Homo sapiens: one gene and its partners. The protein of the gene in region 2 purifies or fractionates together with the protein of the main gene of each other region. This does not show direct contact. Each region holds a gene or a part of one and is shown on either strand. Other genes may lie near its edges. The genes, in order: SLMAP, CCDC89, KIF20B and KIF14.

Region 1 (3,234 bases), on a different chromosome or scaffold from region 2:
TGGATGCCCATGTTGGCTGCCCTGGTTGCAGTAACAGCCATCGTGCTGTACGTGCCAGGTCTGGCCAGAGCTTCTCCATGAGAGCGTTCCTTGAGTCCGTACACCGTCCTCCCTCTAGAAGCTGGCATCACACTCATGCTGGGGACAAACAGAACCATTTTCTTCCTCTTTACCTCTTAAAACAGCAGAAGTACAAGAATACAGCTGTAGGGTCATTGCTTTAAATTATATAAAATGTATCTGTCTATAAAGAAGATATAAAATTGTGACTTTATTCTACTGTAAGCAATAATTTGCTTGCAATTTTTCATGTAATTTTTAAATTAGTATGTTAAGATTCTGAATATTATGGTGGCCTAAAGTAGGCTTCTTGGTACACCAGATTATTTATAACATTAAATTTATGAGTATTTTACTCTGAATTCTGATCACCAGATAATTCATTTTTCTGATTTGATAACTACCCAAACCAAACAACCAATACATACATGGGAAGAGAGGCCCTGTGTGCTCAGTGCCTATCAGTTTGAAATATATACACATATATATATTTTTTACATATTTACGCCATTTTTACTTGTTATGAAACCACTGAGCTATTGGGAACAAGACTTAGAGACAACTATTTGCGTGGATTTTTTTTTTTTTAAGGAAAAATACGTTTGGAAAATAAACTGTTATGGTGATAATTTGGGGAATATGTGCACGCTTGTTCAGCCTTAATGTGACTTGAAGATGTGGAGGACATCAACTTTGAAAAACTTTCCATGAGAGTGTATTTTCTTGAGCAAACTGAAGTATTTCTGGGAGCAAAAACATAGTAATTACACAATTTCAGTGCAGTCAACCAAAATGTTGAGTCAATTGGAATGTAATTTATTAAACCATGTATTTAAAGAGATATTTTTCTTTAAAAGCCAAGTTACTTTCTCATATACAGCATTTTAGGAAGCATGATTTTTTTTTTCTATCATCTATTCCTCCAAGCATGTTTAATTGAAGAAAGTATTAATATCTCTTTAGATAAGCTTGTATTGACCTAATTTGGTTTATGATGTGTCAGAGCTAATTCATGTTCAGGGTGAGCGTTGTACCTACCAACAAATTTCCTGGTTGGGTATGCAAATGGTTATTTTCTTTTTATTGTTGTTAATTGGGACTTTCTGTTAATGAAAAGCACTATTCCCAAGATTAATAGTGTTCTATGCACAATGAAGCACCTAAAAACACTGCTTGATATTATAAATTTAAAACACAAGTGAAAGTTTAGCCATGGTTTTGTGCGGCATCATAGTTATGTCAATAAAGTTTATTTAGGTCATAGAATATCCTAAAGTATCACATAGTTAAATTTTTCAGTCAGTGAAGACCGGGAGGGAATGTCAGTGAATTGGCTTGAATGTTCTGTGGCAATCCACAGGTCTAGCCAAATATTGAAATAGGAGTTTAGGGTATAATTTGCCTTGTGATGTTTGGCAGTCACTGTTTATACTTTAAAGGTTATATTTTAAGCTATTTGAGATTGCTTTTGGGAAGATCACTAGATTTATGGAGGAATTAGTCACAAATGACTTGTAGAAAATACTGTCATATAGTTCATTTCATCATTTTCTGTTGCAGGAAGCCACTCCACCACAGAATGCTAATATGCCAGTGGTACCCAGTACCTCTTGTATATAGGTTATTGCAAATATTGTTCTGAAATGCTTAACTTCAGAATTACATTTTTTAAAGTAAATAATTGTTTTAAATCTATTTTGTAAAGATATAAAGTACAATAGAATTTCTGGAGTACAGATTAAACTATTTGCACTAACACACGTGACGTGCATGATTTAATAAAATAACTTTACTCTCCCTACGCATGTTTGAGTTGAATATCATTGAAGTTCTTAATGCTGACTCTACTATTGGGTTGTTAATAGTCTTCTCTTGACATGACTCTTTATGCAACATAACATACATTTGGTATTCTTCAGGGTTTAAAAGAAAACACTGAGCTGTTTCCTCCAAGTTTTATTAACCTTTTATTTAACTTACTGCTTTATTTTTTTCTCTTTTAATATGGTTATTGTTAAAATGAGAGTCACTTGCTAGACTGGTCTCTTTAAATGTAAGGTCTAGTATCAATATTTACTTCATTCAAGTGGAATAAATGGCTTTTTGTAGTTACTTCCAGTTTTCCTCAAGAATAGAAATAAGTCTGTTCATAAGCAATACCTTCAGTTTTGTTCAGTTCACTTCCACGTTAAATAAAGAATAGGATTATTCACTGGTAATAATAGAGTCATTAAGAAATATTAAGCATTGCAGCTAAAAATTGAACAACCCTGTAATGATACATTTAAGAATTATTCAAAGGTGCTACATGGCAGGGTTAGAGAATAAAAAGAACGTGGTGTTTGAAGCAAAACAGATCTGTATTGGCATCTTGGTTCTACCTTTTATCAGATGTTGTTGCCTTGTGCAAATCACATTTTCTCTGAGTCTCCATTTTCTCATTTATAACATGCGGAGAATAATACTTATATTTGTGGTAGTAGTGTGAACATTAAAAAGATAATGTATGTGAAGTACCATTCGAGTGGTGAATACGTTTTTATGAGAATGTCATACTGAAAAAATATTGCAAATATTAAAGTTTTAGGTAAGCCTAAACTTTAATCTACTTTAATTAAATGAATTGATTGACTCAACCATTCAGAATTTCTGTGTATGAGTGAGATATGTGTGTAACATTATGAATCCTGAGAAAGCATTATCACCTAGCTCTGTTTGTCGCCTTCATAGTTCACTCTTTTGGAAGTAATATGCTTGGTTTGGTGATGAACCAATTGCCCACAATGGTTTTGGAATTCCTGTTGTTATTGCCTTTAGAGCCACTTTGAGTCACATGTGAAAACCATTCACGTTGCCCTATAGTCAGAGGCTTTCAACCAAAACTAGTATTGCCTACTTGATCTCTCACTTTAATCACTACACTTGACCAAAATCTGGTGACTCTTGGCTGCTTCCAGTGACTATCTACTATCAAAAGGATGGGAATCTGCTACCAAAGAGAAAAAACTGCATGCAAATCAACTGAGTTAAAACTGCAGTCTTGGCTGGGTGCAATGGCTCACACCTGTAATCTCAGCACTTTGGGAGGCCGAGGCAGGTGGATCACCTGAGGTCAGGAGTTGGAGACCAGCCTGGCCAACATGGTGAGACCCTATCTCTACTAAAAATACAAAA
Region 2 (7,562 bases):
GTCACCTCCCACTATCACTCCTCTATCCAGTCAACCACTCTCTTGCCACTAGCCTCAAAATTTTTGCTTTCTTTTTTTTCCATTGAATACCCACTCACCAGCACTATTACAGTTCCCATCCCCACATAAATTCAGTGGAACTACCCTGTCCTTGGTGCAAACTGTGGCTGGAGAAAATCACACATCCACCCTGTCTACAATAGAAATGAGAAATAGATGGAGAAATAAAGAGTCCTTGTGTGTGGCTTTGCATCTGCAGTTTTGGTTCTTGAGGTTCTACCTAGTTCCTGCCTCTCCTGCTTTGACTCTATGAGCTCCCGCTGTGCACTTTCTGTGAGCCAATATATTTCCACTTGCTTAGCTAAATTGAATTGGGTTTCTATTAAAACAATCTTGACTAATATGCCCCTTCCATCCAAGACTGGTTTTGTATCCCTTCTTTGTGCCTTCAGTAACACCCAGTGTTTACCACTGTATCTTTGAAAAGAGTGATGTCTAATTTATCTATGATTACTTTAGCAGTGTTCACACTGAATTATTGTTATCCATTTATCTGTGTCTATCACTAAACTGTAATCATCCTGAGAGTTGGGACTTCATTCTTGGATATAATAGTTTCTCAGTCTATGTGAGATGAATGAATGAATGATCAAATGGACAAATGAAATGTGATCTAAGATCATGGGCTTTGGTATCAAAAAGATCTAGATTTGAATTCTCGCTCTATCACTTATTCTCTGGGTGGCATAATTTGCTTAACCTCTCTCAACCTTGGTGTCTTTGTTACCTGTAATTGATAAAATGTGGATAATAATGCCTACCCTTCAAGAATATCATTAGAATTAAGTGAGAGATGTACAAATAAATGCCCACTACCTAGAAGAGCTCTGTAAATGGTAGCTTTAAAAGGGAGGGAGGCATGGAAAGACTTAAAGATAAGTGGAGACGACTCATTGATCACCACAAGGGAGAGAATTGGTCACCTTGGATCTCTGGGAAGGGAATATATGGGATACTTTTAGGAGGGGAGCTAGAAAAAAAATGATTGAGCAAAGAAGACAACCACGGCAGAAAGGAACCAAAGTGATTACTAAACTAAGTTATTTGAGGACAGTGATCGTATTTATTTTATTAATATATTCTTAGCACCTAGCATTGCAAATAACCTTGCAAATGTTTACTGAATAAATGAATGAATATTGATTAGGATCTTATCAGATTCTTGGTCTTGATAAGTAATCTATAGATGTGTGTTATTTTAAATAATGTAAATATAAATTTAATAGAAATGTGTATTAAAATATATTTGCAAAAAAGAAATATAAGCTTTTTCAAATGTGGAAAATTTAGCTGAACATGGTGGTACATGCCTGTAGTCCTAGCTGCTTGGGAGGCTGAGGCAGGAAGATTGCTTGAGCCCAGGAATTCAAGACTGCAGTGAGCTATGATGACACTACTGCACTCCAGCTTGGGCAACAGAGACCCTGACTGGTAAAAAAACAAATGTGTATGTATCTTTTTTCCGTATTTTTCTGAATTCTTTTCCTCCTTTCAGGAAATATATTTTGTGAATTCACTTTATGATATCAGACAACCATATAATCAACAAATAAAATTTTCAATGTTTGTAAGACCCTTTTATTTAAGAGGACCATTCTAATTTTCTAGTCATTTGCCTTGAAAATAACTAGACGAACTCCATTTACGCATATGAAGCTTGAAATTTAAGGAAAAGGACAAGAGAAATGTGGGAAAATTACAAATAAGTTTAATTCACATTTTTAAAGTCTTTGGAATTCACTTTCACAAAACTTCAATATCCTACTGTTTATGTAGTTGTTAAAATTTCAGCTTAGGAAATTTCCCCAGTCTTCAATCTTGGTTTCCATATATAGACAAGAAATTCAGGATTTGAAACATGAGACCTTGATCTTTGACAGTGAGGGAAGAACCTGAAACTCTTCTTTCAGATTTGTTTCGCTCCCAGTGAAATCTGAAGCATTTAAAAATTCATCTCATATCTATAATGACACCCAGGGTTTTTCCTTATCATCATGACTTGGGAGATAGTAAATCTGATCACCAGAAACTGTGACCACAAGAATAGTCAACTCTTTTCCCTACCCTTAATTTTCACAGGATTGAAATCATCTGAATTTTAAGTTTTGTATTTTGCCTTTTTCAGTTGTATTTCTAACATAAGACTTTTCCATGCTATTAAAAATTACCTATAAATGTAATAAGTTCTAGTGGCTGTACAATATTTTTTGTATGAATATATCATAATTTTTGTAACCATTCCCTTTTTTTTTTGAAAACTTGGGTTTCCAACTTTTAGTTGTTACAAACCACACTACAATGAAAAGTTTTGAGCAAAATGTTTTCTTTCAGATTATTTCCTAAGCAAAGATCTCCGCAGAAGAATTACTAGTTCGGAAGCCATAAAAATATCTTAATTTCTCAGTACCTACTGTCAACTGACTTTCACCAACAGTTTAAGAGAGTGCCTATTTCAATACTCCTTTCTAGTCCTGGCTTGTCTTAAGAGAAAATTTTTTGACTAATTTGATACGTGAAATTATATCTTTTTTTTTTTTTTTTTTTTTTTGAGACGGAGTCTCGCTTTGTTGCCCAGGCTGGAGTGCAGTGGCGCGATCTCGGCTCACTGCAAGCTCCGCCTCCCGGGTTCACGCCATTGTCCTGCCTCAGCCTCCTGAGTAGCTGGGACTACAGGCGCCTGCCACCACGCCTGGCTAATTTTTTGTATTTTTTTGGTAGAGACGGAGTTTCACCGTGTTAGCCAGGATGGTCTCAATGTCCTGACCTCGTGATCCGCCTGCCTCGGCCTCCCAAAGTGCTGGGATTACAGGCGTGAGCCACCACACCCGGCCGAAATTATGTCTAATTTTAACTTGTATTTATTGGATCACTGTAGACGTTCAGTTCTTGGCCATTTTTGTGAATTTAATTGTTTATTTTTTAGATGTTAATGTTTCGTTGATATGTATAAAATATTTATTTAAAAAAGGTAGTGTCTGGGCTGGGTGCGATGGCTCATGCCTGTAATCTCAGCACTTTGGGAGGCTGAGGCGGGTGGATCATTTAAGGTCAGGAGTTCAAGACCAGCTTGACCAACATGGTTAAACTCCGTCTCTACTAAAAATACAAAAATTAGCCAGGTGTGGTTGTATGTAATTGTAATCCCAGCTACTCAGGAGACTGAGGCAGGAGAATTGCTTGAGCCCGGGAGGCGGAGGTTGCAGTGAATCGAGATCGTACCACTGCACTCCAGCCTGGGCGATGGAGGGAGACTCTGTCTCAAAAAAAAAAAAAAAAAAAAAAAAAAAGTAGTGTCTGTCATATTAGGGATATTTTTCTCAATTTGATTTTTACCTTCAACATCCACTTAATACACATTTATCTGAATCTCCCCCATGTGCCAGGCACTAGTCTAATCATCAAGGATGAAATAGACACAGTCCCTGCCCTTAAGGATCTTACAGTCTAACAGAGGGAAGCTGGCAGATAAACAGTGACTGCAATAAAATTTTCACATCCTCCACCAGAAGTACAAATAGCTATAGCGGATGCACTAAAAGATGTGAGTGACCAATTGGACATGTAGGGGCCAGGAATAGGCTTCAGAGACGATTCTTAACTAAGAATAAAAAGCTTTACTAGAGTGACAAGGGACAAAGTAGGAAAGGCATTCCAAGTAGAGGAACACCTAAAGATAGGGCGAGAGAGCTGGTTAGTGGATTTGGGTTTGGCTTCAATATTTGGGTTTGAGGAGTAAAATGTCAAGAAAATCCAGTGGAAGAAGGGGCTGGAGAGACCTCAGAAGTCACATAATTTAAAAAATTATACATAACTTTTTGAGTAAGCTTTCCCTTTCTGATCTTACATAATGTTTAAGATAAAAAAAAAATCCTTCCTAGCCCCAGAGATTTGATGTTTACCTTCATTTTCTTCTAGTTTCTGTTTACATTTAACTAATCTATCAGGAGTTGACTTTGGCATATAATGGCAAGCTTCATTTGAATCTTATTTTTTCTGTTTTAATGTTTATCTGTGTGGTTCACTAAGCTTCTTTCTGTAACCTTATTTTGCTAATGGGTAAAAACAGGGGGTGTTAAATATCTAATAAAGAGTATTTATGCCCAGGTGGGGACAATGCTAAGAACAACAAAAGAAATTTCACTGGTGTTTTCTATTTTAATACTTAAATACCAAAAGGGAGCTGTGCCAAACATCACGGGTGCAGATATGCAGGCTTTTAGGGTCCTGGCTCTCAGAATACCACTACTACTTTGTATTCATAGACTGAAATTTTTTGAGGAGCCAACCATGTTTCCACAAACAGTAATTTATTCAAACGATAACTGAAGAGGGGAGAGGGAGGATAAATATATCATTGCCTGCTTCATTTGTTTACTACTACCAGAAATTAGGTGGAGTCAGGCTTCCTCCCCTGATGCTGGCTGGAGATTGAGTGGGGTTGGCATCTCTGTGCTGTACAGGCCAGACACTGAGACAGTTGACAACTGAGAGCTGTGATTGGTTAGAAAGGCAAAAGTAACCCGACCAGATTGGCTCTGGACTCCCCCAGATTCCCCTGTTGTTACTTCATAGCATTCTGAAGACCTGTCCACCAATTACAGGGCTCCTTACTGGAAAAACCAACTGCTGGGGAGTGCCAAGAGTCCCTAGCAACACCCTGCAGCGTTTGAAATCTGAGGGGAAAAGACTGTAGTCAGCCCTTAGTGGATGAGAGCGCCTATGCTCCAGAAACAGCAGGCTCCCAGGATGGACACCCCGCCCCCTGAAGAACGCTTAGAGAAGCAAAATGAAAAACTGAACAACCAGGAAGAGGAGACGGAGTTTAAGGAACTGGACGGTCTGAGGGAAGCCTTGGCAAACCTCCGGGGACTGTCAGAGGAGGAGAGGAGCGAGAAGGCTATGCTTCGCTCCCGCATTGAAGAGCAGTCCCAGCTCATCTGCATCCTGAAGCGGAGGTCAGATGAGGCCCTGGAGCGCTGCCAGATCCTAGAGCTGCTCAATGCAGAGCTGGAGGAGAAGATGATGCAGGAGGCTGAGAAGCTCAAGGCCCAGGGTGAGTACAGTCGGAAACTAGAGGAACGCTTTATGACCCTAGCAGCCAACCACGAGTTGATGCTCCGCTTCAAGGATGAATACAAGAGTGAGAACATCAAGCTGAGGGAGGAGAATGAGAAGCTGAGGCTGGAGAATAGCAGCCTCTTCAGCCAGGCTCTGAAGGATGAGGAGGCGAAAGTATTACAGCTCACAGTCCGGTGTGAGGCCCTCACTGGGGAGCTAGAAACGCTGAAGGAGAGGTGTGCTCAGGATGCCTGCCAGGCACAGGCGCGCGAGAAGGAGCTGCTGGAGCTACAGAGCCAGCAGGCCTGCACCCACACCAAGGAGACAGAACAGCTGCGCAGCCAGCTGCAGACCCTCAAGCAGCAGCACCAGCAGGCTGTGGAGCAGATAGCTAAGGCAGAGGAGACACACAGCAGCCTGAGCCAGGAGCTGCAGGCCAGGCTGCAGACCGTCACTAGAGAGAAAGAGGAGTTGCTGCAGCTGTCCATTGAAAGGGGCAAAGTGCTTCAGAACAAACAGGCAGAGATCTGCCAGCTTGAGGAAAAGTTGGAGATAGCAAATGAAGACAGGAAGCATGCGCTGGAGCGGTTTGAGCAAGAGGCAGTGGCTGTGGACAGCAACTTGAGAGTCAGGGAGCTTCAGCGCAAAGTAGATGGGATCCAGAAGGCCTACGATGAACTCAGGCTGCAGTCTGAAGCCTTCAAAAAGCACAGCTTGGATCTTTTAAGCAAGGAGAGAGAACTCAATGGCAAACTCCGCCATCTCTCTCCATAGGGAAGTTTCTGCTTCCTCTGGCCTGCAATTCAGAATTCAAATATTTGCGTCTTAGCATTATGGCAAGAGTAAAGATGATATCCCATTTATTATACTTTCAAGCACAAAAGGCAACTCAAAGAAAAGCTACTTTACTATGATATTGTTGTTATTATTGTAAAGCCATTATTAATTTTCATTTCTACACCTAGAATACACAAGATTTGCCAGATTTCCTTCTGTGCCTTAGAAATCTTAAATTTACTAGTAGTATCTTCTCCTACCCATAAGTTATTAATTCTCAACCTCAGATATCTTCATTTATGTTAGGATTTTAAATTAGCAGCTTCTATGATTTAAGTCAATCTAAGTGCAGTGAGATGTGCCATTGTGAAAAATAATTAGCACAATTACCCACTGTAGATAGTTAGGCTTATAGTCTCCCATAGTTGAGATTGTAAGCAAACATGTATCAGCATAATAGCATGAATGCTTTGCAGAAAAAAAAAAGTGTCTGACTTTATTTTATTTTGCGCTAGCTTGGAAAATGATTGAGATCAAGTTCTTTAACAAAGAAGGTCAATTTTATTCTGTATGAGCAATATGATTCAAATAAGTTATACAAAACAACTTTTATTTTTTCTGCAAGCTTAGATAATATTCCATTTTTTGGTTTTCTCTTTAAAAAGAGGATTTAGATGTGCAATAATGCAAATATCAGTAGCTTAATTTAATATTGCACGATATGCTAATAGACAATTAGACAATTTGGGGTAACAAATCATAGCAGACGTGATCTATAGAGTAACTCAGAAATTGTTTTGTTTCTATTAGCATATTTTTTGTAATTAAGATTTTCCTTTTTTAAAAAAATCTAAGCTGAACGTGTGTATGTATGCTTGCAGCATTTTTGTAGTAATACCTACATTTTGTAAGAATAGTTATAAAAACATGATATATATATATGTAAAGTTCTTAAAAAAGTTCTCAAAGGTAGTTATATTTTCTTATCTTCCTGTAATTAGGTATTGATATATAAACATTATTATGAATACCTCTCAAAATAGATTGTAATGTAATATTTTTCTCACCCATTTTGCTGAAGGCTACCAAGTTACATAATGAATTTACTTAAAAAATATGACTTGGTGCCTTTTTAGTAAAACCATTTCCAAGCAAGTGTTACCTTGCCTCAGGTAATTTTTTACACCCATTTTTTCACACTTCTATTAAGATTATGCTATTAAATACAAACTTTTCTCATCAAAATAGAAACCACACTGCTAGCTTCAAAGGACTATTTACTTCCTTCTACAGGTTACCAAGAATCAGAATATAGGAGCTAAGTTAATCATGGATATCCTTTATTGAGCCCATACTATTTATCATTGCGCTGAAGCAATTTGGATGAATTACTTTATTTAATTCTTAGGACTATTCAAGAAGGAAAGCGTGTTCATTTCTATTTTAAGGAAGAGGAGACTGGTTTTGGTAATTTTGCTTAAGGCCAGTTGGTCACTGGGGGAGCTGGATTTTGATGACTACAGCACACTGAAAGATAATTTTTGGCGACCAAGTGCCAGGTGCTGGGGTAGGCACTAAGAAGAAGCATAAAGAAGCATTTTTACTGCCCTGGAAGAGCCCCCATACAGTCTAAGGGCAAAAATAATAATAATAATTATTATTATTAT
Region 3 (7,003 bases), on a different chromosome or scaffold from region 2:
ATTACTATACCAAATACTATAAATACTATATCTTTAAATGATATGCTCCTCCTAATATTATTTCTTCATGTATCAATTATAGATATCTATTTACTTCCTACAAAGACAGACAATCACTTAGCTCTAGTTACATATATTTTTTCCTGTACTGGTTACCTTTGCACACTGAAATAATATGCTTAAACTTCTACATCCTGTTGTCTCATTTCTTGATTTGCACTTTGTTAAGATTTTGGTATTATAGACATAAGACTCAATCCTTTTCTTTCTTCTCTTCCTACACTCTTCCTTCCATACCTCTGCTGAGCAAAACCTAGGCCTTACAGAATATAATTCTAGCTCTTCTTTAGCATGTCATATAGGGCCCTTTATGATCTAGCCTCTGCCTACTTTTCTTATCTCCTGCCATTATCCACTTCAGCTAATGTTCACAGTCATGCTGAAGTAGGTATTTAGTTTTTGGAATCTTTTGTGAACTCTTGTTCTTTTTATCATTGTCTCACAGCCTTCCATGGCCTGGAATAGCCTCCTCCTGTAATTCACTGGCAAATCCCAATCATTTTCTTCAGCCTACATGCTACATTACGAAATCTTCCCTAGTAGACATCCCTTATTACATCAAAAAGTATTTATTGAGTACTTGTTTTTGTGCAAGGTACGGTTTTAGATGTTGGGGCTATAGAGGACCAAGATAGTAACGAGTTTGCATTCTAATGACTTAACAAACAGATTTAATAAATATTCCTACCACTATGAAACCTACTATGTACCAGGATTATACTAAATAACTTACATATGCTATTTTAATCCTTACAACAATTTTATGAGCCCTATAAGTGGCTGGGCTTATACTCAATCTCAAGTCTGACTTCACAGCCATTACTTTTAAGCTATGCTCACTCTGCTCCCATTATTCCTTGTTCATTTCTATTACAACATTTGTCATGTTTTGAAATACTTTGCATATGGATTTCCCCATATGAACCACAGGAGATAAAAAAATTATTTTCAGGACGGTGTAGAACCAGTGCCATTCTAGATGTATATGAAAGAAGTTAATACATTATATACAATGGGTGCCTAAAGGCATTAGGGATTAATTGTCTCTTGAAATCCCAGGTTGAGAAGGGCTACTTTAGATGAAGGCCTCTTAAGAGCCTCTCAAGGGTAGAGACATCTGTCACTTAGTGGGTGGCTGATAAATTTTTGTTGAACTTGTTATTTAAACCTTTGCAATTAATACATACTCAAAAGTATTATTTTGGGGTTGAAAAGTCAGCTGCTTCAGTCTTGCTTCTAGAGATGGCTTTGCAGGTGGAGTTAAGCACTTAGTATTTTCTTAAGAGAATTCCAGGGGTGTTGGATCCAAACTTTGAGAGGCCAAAGAATGCACAGACTCTGAAGCCGGATCACCCAGATTCAAATTCCAGTCTCTCTGTTTGTTATATAAATTGAAGCAAGTTATTATTTAACATATGCCAGATACTTTTATAAATACTTTACACTACTACCTGATTTAATCTTCAACACTTCTATTTAGTAGATACCTTTACTATTTCCTTACTAGCTCCATGCCTCAGTTTCCTCTTCTATTAATTGGCTGTAACAACAACAAATTGCCTTACAGAGTTACTGTTAGGATTAAATGAGTATAAAGTGCTAAGAATACTACCTGGCATAAAGAAAGTTAGCTATTACTAACAGTAGAGACTGTGGCCAGGGCAGAAAAATCAGCTTGATGTAACTTACCAAATTTTTCATTTTATGTTAATATTCATTTCAAGGGCACAGATGGAATTCTTTGGAATGGGTACTAAATCTTAAGCACTTCCCAATCAAGCTGGCTCTGCATCTCCCTAAGGGAAAAACCCAGCAGCTGGTGCTGAAATGAAAAACGTCGGAAAAAGTACCTTTAAAATCTGGATACTTTTCTGCAACTCCTCTGCCATCTTCCAAGTCCACATTATCATTATCTTTTCCTGGGATCTCTTGCAACAGCCTCCTAACTGGTTCAACAGCATCCTCCCTGGCTGCCTCTAGTTTCTCCAGGAGATTAACCTTTTCAAAAGATAGATGCACATTGGATTGCACCATGCCCATGCTTAAAACTGGTTATCCAGTAAGCATTTCGTAATACTCAAGTCAGTAACTTGGCTAAGGCTTACAGGGTCTGGCCTTGGCCCATGCCTACAGATTCACTCCCCTGACTCCTCCCCATGGTCTCTACCCAGCCACATCAGCTTTCATTCATTGTTCAACAAATATTGATTTGCTTGTCTTGTGTTAGAGAGTCATTGAGGATACATTAGCGACCAAACAAAACACAGTTATTCTACTCACAGAACTTAGATTTTACAGGGTGGGGGAACAACAACAATTGCTAGTTGTAAAAAGTATAAAAATGAAATTGAACCTGCAAATAAAAAAAGAGTGCTCACTTGAGATACAGTAGCCAGGAAAGTCTTCTTTAAGAAGGTACTATTTTAGACGTAACCTAAATGATGAAGGGAAGTGCCACGTGTTGAATGGAGAAGAGAGAATTTAGGTACAGGGAACAACCCATGCAAAGGTTCATACATGCTGGAAAGAAGTTGGTGTTTGAGGTATCCAGAGCAGATCAACTTACTGTACAGTTAGTGGGGAGTGAGGTCGGCTGACACTTGATTGTGCAGGACCTGGGAGGCCATGGTAAAGATCAGAATTCTATTCCTTTTCCCCCCTCCTCTTTTTATTTTATAAAATCTGTTATTTTAGAAAGTTGCAAGACTGGTACGATGTACACCATTATACCCTTCAACTAGATTCACCAATTACTAATATTTTGCCACATTTGCTTTCTCTATTTTTTTGCCATATCTTTTGAAGGTAAGCCGCAAACACTGTGACACTTTGCTGCTAATTACTTTAGCAAGCGCCTTCCAAAAACAAAGGCATTCTTCCACTTAATCACAAATTAATTCTCACATGCAATCAATTTAAAACTGATTCAATATCATCTAATATGTAGTTCATATTTAAATTTCCCCAGTTGTCCACAAATGTCTTTCGAAGTTTTTTTTTTTTTTTAAAAACTATGAACCAGCCAAGATTCACAAATTTCATTTGGTTTCTTTTGACTCTCGACTAAAGTAATTTTCCACTTCGTTTTTTTCTTTTTCCTGTCATGACACTGACATTTTTGAAGAGCCTAGGCCTGTTGTCTTGTAGAATATTCTACATTGTTTTTTTCTGATTGTTTCCTCATGATTAATGTCAAACATTTCTAGCACAAATACTATCGGGTGATATTAGCGATGCTAAGTATCTTCACTTGGTTAAGGTATGTCTAATAAATCTCTTCAGTGTAAAATTCTATTTTCCCTTTATAATAAGAAATGATCTGTAGGGTGATTCTTTGAGATACTAACATCCTCTTCCCTACAACCTTTCAGTTAATTGTTTGTTTTAGCATCTTGCATTCATTAGTTTTAGCATTCATAAGCTTACCTATATCAATTTTTAGACTGGCAGTTGCACAATGGGGATGCAGCGAGGGAAGTGACCCTCCGGATCCCGGGATGCCGAGCCTTTTTCTGCCCCGTAGGGACAGGACTGGGAAGTGGCTAGCCCGCCATTCCTCGGCCCGTCCTTAGGGGAGTCGCAGGACTAAGTGCAGTGGCAGTGGCCTCACCTCGGGCCTTCGCCACATCTTTATTGCCTCAAGGACAGAATTGGAGATCGGTGTCCCAGTCAACAGCGTGGTACTTATGACAGCCGCGAGAAAGCGCACTACTAAAGCCCGGCTAGCAGAGCTGGGAGGCAAACCAGACCGTCAGCACCAGGGCGGCCCACGCCTGCTTCCGCCCATTGGCTGCCCGCGTTTCAAGACCCGCCCCCATATTGGAGAGCTTCTTCCGGTAGCCACTGGAAAGCCCGCAGCGCGAGCCGGCTACGCTCCCTGGCGGAGCTCTGGACGCCCCACCTACTCCCAGCGTTCAGTGCGGTGCCCTGGCCGCCATTGTTTGAATTTGAAAACGGTAACATCGCAGTGCTGCTCGCGGGTCTGGCTAGTCAGGCGAAGTTTGCAGGTGAGGAGGTGACCCGCGGGAATGTGTGGGGAAGGAGGTGGGTGACTGCGCATGTATGGGGCCTAAGGTGGGGAAACGGCTTTGGCAATGTGGACATGTTCCGACAGGGCTCATACCCCAGTGGAGGTTACTGTCAGGAACTGGGTTGCGGAGCGATGCGAACACGGGGTACGCAGCGAGGAATGAGTCATACTAATTCGGTTACGGTTTAAATCTCGCCTCCACTGCTAATTAGCTGAGTGACGCAAGACAATTCATTTAATCTCTCTCTGTACCTTAGTTTTCTTATCAGTTAAAAGGCTGCAATGAAGTGTCTATTTCTTTCGGCTTTTGTGAAGATTAAATGGTAATGTGTAAAGTTATTAGTGCTGGCACACAGTAGGTACTAAATGTTTGCAGTTATTAATATTATTATTGTTGTTGCTTCTGTTGTTGTTGAGGAACAGGCCTGTTTTGCCACACCTAGTTTTCTGAAGCTCTGAGGTGAGCAGTTTGCTCGGCTGGTAGGTAACACGGCCTTTTTGCGGGGGGAGCCCTGTGGTAGCCTCTGTGCACTTATTTCCAGACTACTCCTACTGGTCCTTGGGGCTTGCCCTTCTAGGGTTTTGCAGTGCCAGGCTGAAGAGTTTGTGGCACAGTGACTGCTGTCATTCCCCAGTTTAGAAGGCTTTCTCCATCTCGATTCGCTCGCTGGTTCAGTGATGCATGTCTGGCACAGTTCTCTTATATTTCTTGCTAAACTACTAGTTTACAGAAGTTCACGCCTTATGGGTTAGGTAGTGTAACAGTGTATTTATCTTACATGTCCAAGACTCCAGATTTTAAATTGTAAAAATAACATAAAATACTCATCGATTAGTTGTGAAGACTTTTTTTGAGGCTTTGTGTTGTAGACCACATTCAGAAACCTCATTCAGCAACAGATTCTGCTATTTTTCACCAAAGTCTCCAATTGTGGATTCTTATTGGAGAGAGGGTAAATATGCAGTTTTCCAGTCAGAGCAGCCTTTTGAAATGAAAAATGAGGTCTTGGAGCCTGCTGTCACGAAAGATAATATTACAGACTAGGACCGACTTTTTTTTTTTTTTTTGGAATAGTATTTTCTTTATAACCATTATTTTAAGTCATTAGGTAGTCTTTATCCCTGCATAAGTCGCTGAATTTGTTATAGGGGATACAGAGTGGTATAAGGCAAGGTTCTTGCCATCAAGAAGTTTCCAGTTTAGTTGGGAAGGCCACGTATAAGTAGAAGTCATCTAAAATCGCAAGAAGTTACAGTAAGTCTGAACACTTTTAGAAATGCTAGGAAGTAGTTTGTTCATTGAAAAATGAGCATATGAACAAATACTTTATTATAACTGCTTTTAGTACATAGGAATATTCTTTTTAATTCAGCAATTTAAAAGATTTATCAACACTTTTCTTTAAACCAAAAATTATTATTTGAAGCCACAGGTGTTTTTTAGTTTTCTGGGCATTTCCATGAACTCTGTGTTATGAAATGTCAGGCCGGTACTTTAACGTTTTGCAGATGCTCCCCCCTCTGCACCCCCTTACCCATGATCTAGATCAGTGCTTTCCTTAGTCTTTTTGCAATTTAGGGGAAAAAAGTCAACTATGTTCTTGTGATACGTTTAGGAATTTCAGCCTGATCAAGGAAAAAGATTGACAACAAGATGGCAGGAATAAACAAGGATTTTGACAGGATTGTAGGCAAAGGAAATCCGTCTCAGTTTGGGACCTTTTCTAGACCAGGGTGAGGGGCCACCATCTAGAGGGGAAAGAGGGCAAGGGGAATGGGGAGTCGGGGAGGAAAGAATCATAGAGGGGCTTACATGCCTAAATGATGTTGCACAGTGGAGAGTCTCCGGATCATAGAAACTCTCAAGGGCAGCAGTGGCTTGGGGGTCTTGATAATCCCGGGTTTTATGTGTCTGGCAAATGTTGGGTGCAGTTTCATGGGGCATTCAAACCTGGCAGGCTCTAAATGGCTAAAAATATGCTTATTTTGGGCCATTTTGAAAGTAAATGGATGCTTCAGAATTTGACTTTGGCGCCCCAGCAGGCTTTTCCCTTTTTTTTTTTTTTTTTTGACGCAGTCTTGCTCTGTGTTCAGGCTGGAGCGCAGTGGCGCAGTCTCGGCTCACTGCAGCCTCTGCCTCCTGGGTTCAAGCGATTCTCCTACCTCAGCCTCCTTAGTAGCTGGGACTACAGGCGCATGCCACCACACCCGGCTAATTTTTGTATTTTTAGTAGAGTCGGGGTTTCACCATGTTGGCCAGGAGGGTCTCGATCTCCTGACCTCGTGATCCACCCACCTCGGCCTCCCAAAGTGCTGGGATTACAGGTGTGAGCCACTGCGCCCGGCCGTAGGCTTTTTAATTTTTATTTTAAACATTCATGGTCCTTGATCCAGTGGGCTTTTGAGCTAAGATCCCTACCAGCTGTGAAGAAGTTTACACTGTAGAGCTATTATGCAAGGGCCATCTTTGGTTCATTTTATATAATACCTGTGGGTGATGGTCGTTACTACTTTCTTGAGCTAGGAACCTTAGTTTGGGAGTCACTGATCTGTATATTTTTTAATCTTGTCAAAAAACAGCACAGAGTCCTCCTCCTCTCTCTGGTATTGTACATCTAGTAGATTCTCAGTAAATATTAGAATGTTAGTATTTTTTAGTTAAGGTTATCCTTAAGTTTACCTTTTAGTTTAGTGATTTGATGTTTAATTCAATGGTAATAGTTTACTGATGCATTATTCCTATTTAACTTAAAACCTGTGATGTGTCAGGTACTGTTTTGAATGTGTTTACATATATTATTTTACTTTTTACTTGAATTTGAAATTGAAAACAATTTTTCAGATAACTGAGTTTTGTTTTGTTTTTTTTTTTTGACGGAATCTCACTCTGTCACCCAGGCTTGAGTGCAGTGG
Region 4 (7,039 bases), on a different chromosome or scaffold from region 2:
TTAAGGAGAATACAAACTGAATACACTTAACCTCCCCAAATATATCTTTATCTGCAGTTTATAGACTGCATTGCTGTGGTTGAAAAAGAGATACGTACTTTTTGGTTATGATTAATTTTTAAAGAAAATACGTTTGAGTCATAAGAAAGTTGGTAGTTTATAGAAAAAAGTATTTATAGACAGGCATTGTGGCATGTGTCTGTAGTCCCAGCTACTTGGTTCAGGTGGGAGGATTGCTTGAGCCTGGATGGTCGAGGCTACAGTGAGCCATGTTTATGCCACTGCACTCCAGCCTGGGCAACAGAGTGAGACTCTGTCTCAAAAAAAAAGAAAGTAAAAAAGTATTTACTCAGTAATTATATGAGGGGAGAAATATATTTTGTGAAATAAATTTCTTGCTGAGAAGTATTTTAAGTTAAAAATTTTTTTTTTCTTGCATGCAGGAAGGTGTGAGTATTAATAAGTCCTTGCTAACTTTGGGAAAAGTTATATCTGCACTTTCGGAACAAGCAAACCAAAGGAGTGTTTTTATTCCTTATCGTGAATCTGTTCTTACATGGCAAGTATCTTTTGAAGTATAAAGAATTGTATAAAATATAGTGAATACTATGGGGAAAAGAATGATAGACTGACTTCATTAACTTTGGGATGGAGAAAGGTGGTAAGCATTATGAATTCTAGAGCCAAACTACCTGGATTTGAATCTCAGCTCAGCATCTTATAAGCTCTGTGACTTTGGGCAAATTACTTAATATTCTAGCCCGTTTCCTCATCTGTAAAATAGGAATAAAATCAATACCTTTTAGGGGTAAGTGAGAATTAGATTATTAGTGTACAATTCTTAATACATAATATGTACTATATGAGTGTAAATAACTGTTCTTGTACTTAACTATTATTTGTGGCTGATGTTTGAACATATATGGTACTACCAAACATATTGCTAGTTGTATAAAGAGAAGTTGAATAATTTTGTTTGCTTACTACACAGTGACTAATACATGGGTGCTCAATAAATGTTTTCATTAGTGAATGTATATTTAATTTTCAATATGTTACATTCAGATTACATCTGTATGGATTTAATATTCAGTTGTGATAGGCATTAATATACAGTTACAATAAGGACTGCATCTTTACTTGAGGGTAATGTGTCTTTATAATTGGTTTATTACAATGTGATTGCCACCTTGAAACCTATAAGGGAAAATCTGATTTTTTTCATGTCTTATGAAAGTTAAAAATAGTGACATTCATTCTGCACTAATATATGTTTTAAGTCTCATACTCTTTTTCTCTAAAATAAAGATTTTGCTTTTAGTACAATATAGAATTTTTGTTTCAATGTTCATCATTTTCAACATTTATTGAGCACCTGCTTCAAAAGGTTGTGGTAGCACTGGAAATACAAAGATGACCAAGACACATAGTCCCTTCCCTATGGTAGCTCACAGTCATGAAATACTTGATGATCCACCACATTTTAGAATCTCTGCACAGATTATTGCCTCTTGAAACAATATAAAAAGTGTAAGAGAGAAAAAGTGTTTATGAGATCTAGAAATAGTTACAAATACCAGAAAAGTTTTAAATGGTATTTGAGTAGAGTATAATAATACTGTATTATATACCCTATTAGTTTGTTTTGTGCTTTCTAGATAATTACTGTTATTAAGTTGTTGTAGAAGCAAAGTCTTATGACTTTTTTTCTTGTAGGCTGTTAAAAGAAAGTCTGGGTGGAAATTCAAAAACTGCAATGATTGCTACGATTAGTCCCGCTGCCAGCAACATAGAAGAAACATTAAGCACACTTAGATATGCTAACCAAGCCCGTTTAATAGTCAACATTGCTAAAGTAAATGAAGATATGAACGCTAAGTTAATTAGAGGTGAATATTTTCTCAGAATTTAAAAATTGTTTTGCCACAGTTTAGTCCCAGATATTAGTTGCAGTCTTAAAATATGTAATTTATGAACATCAAAGGTGTTTTTCTATACCTATTTTAATAGATTCTAGTCATCAGCCTATAGTGATGGAGGATGATAGGTAGAAGGACAGATAATAAGTAATAAGGAGAAAAACAATTAGGAAAAGAACATAGAAAACAGAGTGTGAGTAAGGGGGAAACAGTAAGCATTAAACAATAAATTTACACAGTCATAGACGTGTGCAGCAAAATGCCAATAAAACTATTTACTATTTTTCTCTTATGACCTCTCTTCCATTGACGTTTTATGTACTAGCTCTGCTCATGCTTAGTTCATTGATCCAAAGGCAATTGGAGCTCGAGTTTCTAGTATAGGCTGAACTTCATTTATGCTAAATACTGCTTTCTATTTATCTCTAGGTAATCATCAATTTAGGATAGACTTTAATGCCTGCAAGAAATCTTGATTTGTACAGTTTTATCTTTGCTGATGTAGAACTATCATCTTTTCATGCCCCTTTGTCCTCTGGCCCTTTTTAGCAGCAGAAGGTGATAGACACTTCAGATGTATGAGCCAGAGAAGAATCTGATTTGTCTATCCTGGTCCATCCTTTCCCTTTTGGATCCCTTCTGTTTCACAAGTGGGACTGTTTTCATTAAAAATAAGTATTCTGGGCCGGGCATGGTGGCTCATGCCTATAATCCCAGCACTTTGAGAGGCTAACGCAGGCGGACTACTTAAGGTCAGGAGTTCGAGACCAGCCTGGCCAACATGGGGAAACCCTGTCTCTACTAAAAATACAAAAATTAGCCAGACACAGTGGTGGGCACCTGTAATCCTGGCTACTCGGGAAGCTGAGGCAGGAGAATTGCTTGAGCCCAGGAGGCGGAGGTTGCAATGAGCCGAGATCGTACCACTGCACTCTAGACAGTGAGACTCTGTCTAAATAAATAAATAAATAAATATTCTGAATTCCAGCTTGAAAAATCTTTGATCTTGGCTGTTCTGCCTAGTGAATAGCCATTCTTTTATTTCTTTACTTTTTAAATAAACTTTCACTTTAACAATTACCCTTTTGCCTCTCAAAAGTGTTCCACTTTGGTCAGTACATTATACAGCTTTCCTACTTATGAACAGGGAAAGTTCATTAATATGGGAGCATATTTCAGGTTAAGACTAAGTAAAGATTTATAGGTTATATAAAGTAGAGCTGATTTCTCCAATATTCTATTTTATTTAGTAATACTGTATTTAAAACTTCAAATGAAATAGAAGATTGGAGGATTATGCTTACTGTGGAAATTGTTATATATTAAATGTTATTATTAATGCATCTTTGTATAAATCTTCAGAATTGAAGGCAGAAATTGCAAAGCTAAAAGCTGCTCAGAGAAACAGTCGGAATATTGACCCTGAACGATACAGGCTCTGTCGGCAAGAAATAACATCCTTAAGAATGAAACTGCATCAACAGGAGAGAGACATGGCAGAAATGCAAAGGTAGAGTACAGTCAGTACTCTAAATGTTAAGTGTGTTGCTCTGGAATCATAGGAATGGCAGGGACCTCAAGAGGATACTGAGTATTTTTCCGACCTTCCTTATGAATAGAGCAGCCCACTCCCAGATTATCATATTTTAAATATTACTAGGTAGTTGCCTAATTTTCATTGATTGTCTCTTGACTCTCAATCTTATACATCTGGATGTTTTTAACTCTGTTATTTTCTTTGTCTTTGGAAAGAGTGTGGAAAGAAAAGTTTGAACAAGCTGAAAAAAGAAAACTTCAAGAAACAAAAGAGTTACAGGTATTATTTCAACTTTCTAAACTGATTAGAAAATAAAAGAAATATGCCAAGAAATAAATATTGCCAATATGCCAATGCATGTAAATTTAATGTTTCAAATACTTACTATATACTGACTCTGTACAAAGCAATACCGTAAGGAAAATTAATATAAAGAAATGTTAAGATCAAGACTGGTTGCTTAGAGCCAGCCCATAAACTAGTTGGAAAGTTAAAGTATGAATAAACCATCTTGTTATATTTACTTTGGTTCTACAAATATATATTAAATGTCTATGCTTTTCAGGAACAGGGGAAGCCAAGGTGATTAAACACAGTTTCATCCCTCAGAGAGCTTGTGATCCAGAGAGAGATTTACAAAACGTAAATAGAAGACTGAAATGCAATGTGATTTCAGTAGATTGAGCCATAAGCAATTGCCATTTTTGTAGGTAAAGCATGGTTGAACACTGGCAGTTTCATATGGTTGAACCTAATGTAATGAAAAGTATTTCAAGTGATTGGTAGTGGGGGAGTACTATAAGAATTCAGGAGAAGAAGGGAAAATTCCTTGCGCATGGCCAATCCAATCTCATAAAAGAGGTGGCATTTGAGATGGGCTTTGAAGTTTGGGTAAGATTTTAATAGGAAGAGAAAAGGAAGAGCACATTCTTGGAAGAGAAAATTCTCTGAAAGTAAAGGTAGAAAAGTTTGAGTTGTCTTTAGAAAGGGTACGTAGATCAGTTTTACTGGAAGCAGTTTATATGAGATCATAAGGAGATACAATTGGAAAGATATGTTATGATTAGTTTATGAAGGACTTGATTTCCAGGCCAAGGAAATTAAGTTTTATCCTGTAGGAAGTGAGAAGCTGTTAAAAAGTGACCAGGGAATTTACATTTTGAGAGCACCCTTTCGAGAGAATTAACCTGGCATAGGATATAAGATGGATTGAAAACAGAAGCTGTTGACGGTGATCAAGAGGCTGCTTCAGTAGTTTTGGTGTGAGTTGACAGGGGCCTGTGGTGAAGGCAATGAAGATGCAACAAAACAAACTGATCTATTCTAAAGACGGTCAGTCAATAAGAAGACACAATTTGGTGATGATAGATTGATGTATGAGTAGACTGAGGATGGTGAAGGACAAAGAAGGTAGGGAGGTCACAAAGGAGAGATTCTAAGGAAGGAGGAGAGAGTCTAAAAAACCTTTATGGCCGGGCACGGTGGCTCACGCCTGTAATTCCAGCACTTTGGGAGGCTGAGGCGGGTGGATCACCTGAGGTCAGGAGTTCGAGACCAGCCTGATCAACATGACGAAACCCTATCTCTACTAAAAATACAAAAATTAGCCGGGCGTGGTGGCATGCGCCTGTAGTCTCAGCTACTTGGGAGGCTGAAGCAGGAGAATCGTTTGAACCCAGGAGGCAGAGGTTGCAGTGAGCCGAGATCGTGCCACTGCACTCCAGCCTGGGTGACACAGCGAGACTCTGTCTCAAAAAAATAAAAATAAAAAAATAAATAAATAACCTTTAATTTAGTGAGACTTCATATAGAATTGTTTTAATGTTTAATATAGACCATTTGTTTTAGGTGAATTTAACAATTTCATACTGTGATTAAGATTAATTTCTTTTTCTGACTTCTACCAGAAAGCAGGAATTATGTTTCAAATGGACAATCATTTACCAAACCTTGTTAATCTGAATGAAGATCCACAACTATCTGAGATGCTGCTATATATGATAAAAGAAGGAACAACTACAGTTGGAAAGTATAAACCAAACTCAAGCCATGATATTCAGTTATCTGGGGTGCTGATTGCTGATGATCATTGGTATGTTAATCCTCTAAAAAAAAAGAAAAGGCACCTGTTCTATATCTTGATAACATGTGGTTTCCTTCATATGGCATATTCGTTGATACTGATCGTTTGGTAGAATTCTTCAAACCCATTGTTTAGTCAGGAAAAACATACATTCTGAGTGTGTTATAAGGATGATAGGTCAGTTACTCTCAATATAAAGTACAGTGTAATGCTCTCTCTGTTTTTGTTTTGGCATACTTGATCTGTTGATTGAAGAATAATTTATTTTCTTGCAATTATAATGATGCACATGCAAGTAAACTATCTATCTTACATAACAGAATTTTTGGTTGGATTGACCAATTTAAAAATGTTACTTTATGTGAATTTTGTTCATATGAATGGAATACTTGTATATATTGTTGGAATGATAGCGTATGTAAACTTTTTTGACTCTGCATTGTGTTTCCAAGATTTGTGTACATTGGTTCCTGTTTTATTTTCACTGCTATGAAGTATTCCATTGTATGAGTTTATCTCTTATAAAGTTTAGGAAGTGCTTTTAAATTGTATGTCTGAGAGTAGAGATACTAGGTTGTAGAATATGTGCATATTCAACTTTAGTAGCTAATTTCAAATTATTTTCCAAAATGAATTTTTACTCCCATTGGCCTTGAGAATACCTGTTACTCCACATCGTTGCCAATACTTAGTACTGTCAGACTTTATGCCAATCTGATGAACACTAAATAGTATATCATTATGGATTCATTTTACATTTCTTTGATTAATAATAAGGTTGAACATCTTTTCATGTGTTGATTGGCCATTTTTGTTTACTATTGTAACTTGCCTCTTCATATCTTTTGTTGATTTTTCAACTGATTTGCTTATTTCTTAATAATTTGTAGGAGTTGCCAATCTTTCGTGAGCTTTTTGGTATAAATATCTTTTTTTCTAACGTGTAACATCTTTTTACTCTCTCTGGTGCCTTTGATTGATTGAAGTTCTTAATTTTATTGTAGTACCTGGCATCAGTCTTTTCCTTTATGATTGTCAGTTTTTATGTCTTAAAGAAAGAATGTTCTGGCTGGGCGTGGTGGCTTATGCCTGTAATCCTAGCACAGGTGTGTGGGCTCAGGAGTTTGAGTCCAGCCTGGGCAACATGGTGAAACCCTGTCTCTACTAAAAATACAAAAAATTTTCTGGGCGTGGTGGTACCTGCCTGTAATCCCAGCTACTCAGGAGGCTGAGGCATGAGAATCGCTTGAACCTAGGAGGTGGATGTTGCAGTGTGCCGAGATCATCATGCCACTGTACTTCAGCCTGAGTGACAGAGCGAGACTATGTCTCAAAAAAAAAAAAAAAAAAAAAAAAAGAGAGAGAGAGAGATAGAGTGTTCTGGCCAGGTGCGGTGGCTCACGCCTATAATCCTAACAGTTTGGGAGGCTGAGGCGGCAGATTACTTGAGACCAGGAGTTCAACATCAGCCTGGCCAACATGGTGAAACCTCATCTCTAC

Evidence for each region.
Region 1: the proteins of CCDC89 (region 2) and SLMAP purify together in Homo sapiens (affinity purification with mass spectrometry; 2 studies listed by BioGRID and IntAct, with this or other methods). This does not show direct contact.
Region 3: the proteins of CCDC89 (region 2) and KIF20B purify together in Homo sapiens (co-immunoprecipitation; 3 studies listed by BioGRID and IntAct, with this or other methods). This does not show direct contact.
Region 4: the proteins of CCDC89 (region 2) and KIF14 purify together in Homo sapiens (co-immunoprecipitation; 3 studies listed by BioGRID and IntAct, with this or other methods). This does not show direct contact.

Annotation. Positions count from the first base shown.
Region 1 is NC_000003.12:57,927,308-57,930,541, forward strand, and holds the end of SLMAP (sarcolemmal membrane-associated protein), read left to right. Parts: coding exon of another isoform or gene 1-81; 3' UTR 82-2,696; downstream 2,697-3,234. UniProt on the Homo sapiens protein: Associates with the striatin-interacting phosphatase and kinase (STRIPAK) core complex, forming the extended (SIKE1:SLMAP)STRIPAK complex.
Region 2 is NC_000011.10:85,683,336-85,690,897, reverse strand, and holds CCDC89 (coiled-coil domain-containing protein 89), read left to right. Parts: upstream 1-4,702; 5' UTR 4,703-4,767; coding exon 4,768-5,892; 3' UTR 5,893-7,050; downstream 7,051-7,562.
Region 3 is NC_000010.11:89,697,614-89,704,616, forward strand, and holds the start of KIF20B (kinesin-like protein KIF20B), read left to right. Parts: upstream 1-3,976; 5' UTR 3,977-4,067; intron 4,068-7,003. UniProt on the Homo sapiens protein: Plus-end-directed motor enzyme that is required for completion of cytokinesis. Required for proper midbody organization and abscission in polarized cortical stem cells.
Region 4 is NC_000001.11:200,596,746-200,603,784, reverse strand, and holds part of KIF14 (kinesin-like protein KIF14), read left to right. Parts: intron 1-443; coding exon 444-559; intron 560-1,716; coding exon 1,717-1,889; intron 1,890-3,281; coding exon 3,282-3,429; intron 3,430-3,671; coding exon 3,672-3,735; intron 3,736-5,363; coding exon 5,364-5,548; intron 5,549-7,039. UniProt on the Homo sapiens protein: Microtubule motor protein that binds to microtubules with high affinity through each tubulin heterodimer and has an ATPase activity. Plays a role in many processes like cell division, cytokinesis and also in cell proliferation and apoptosis.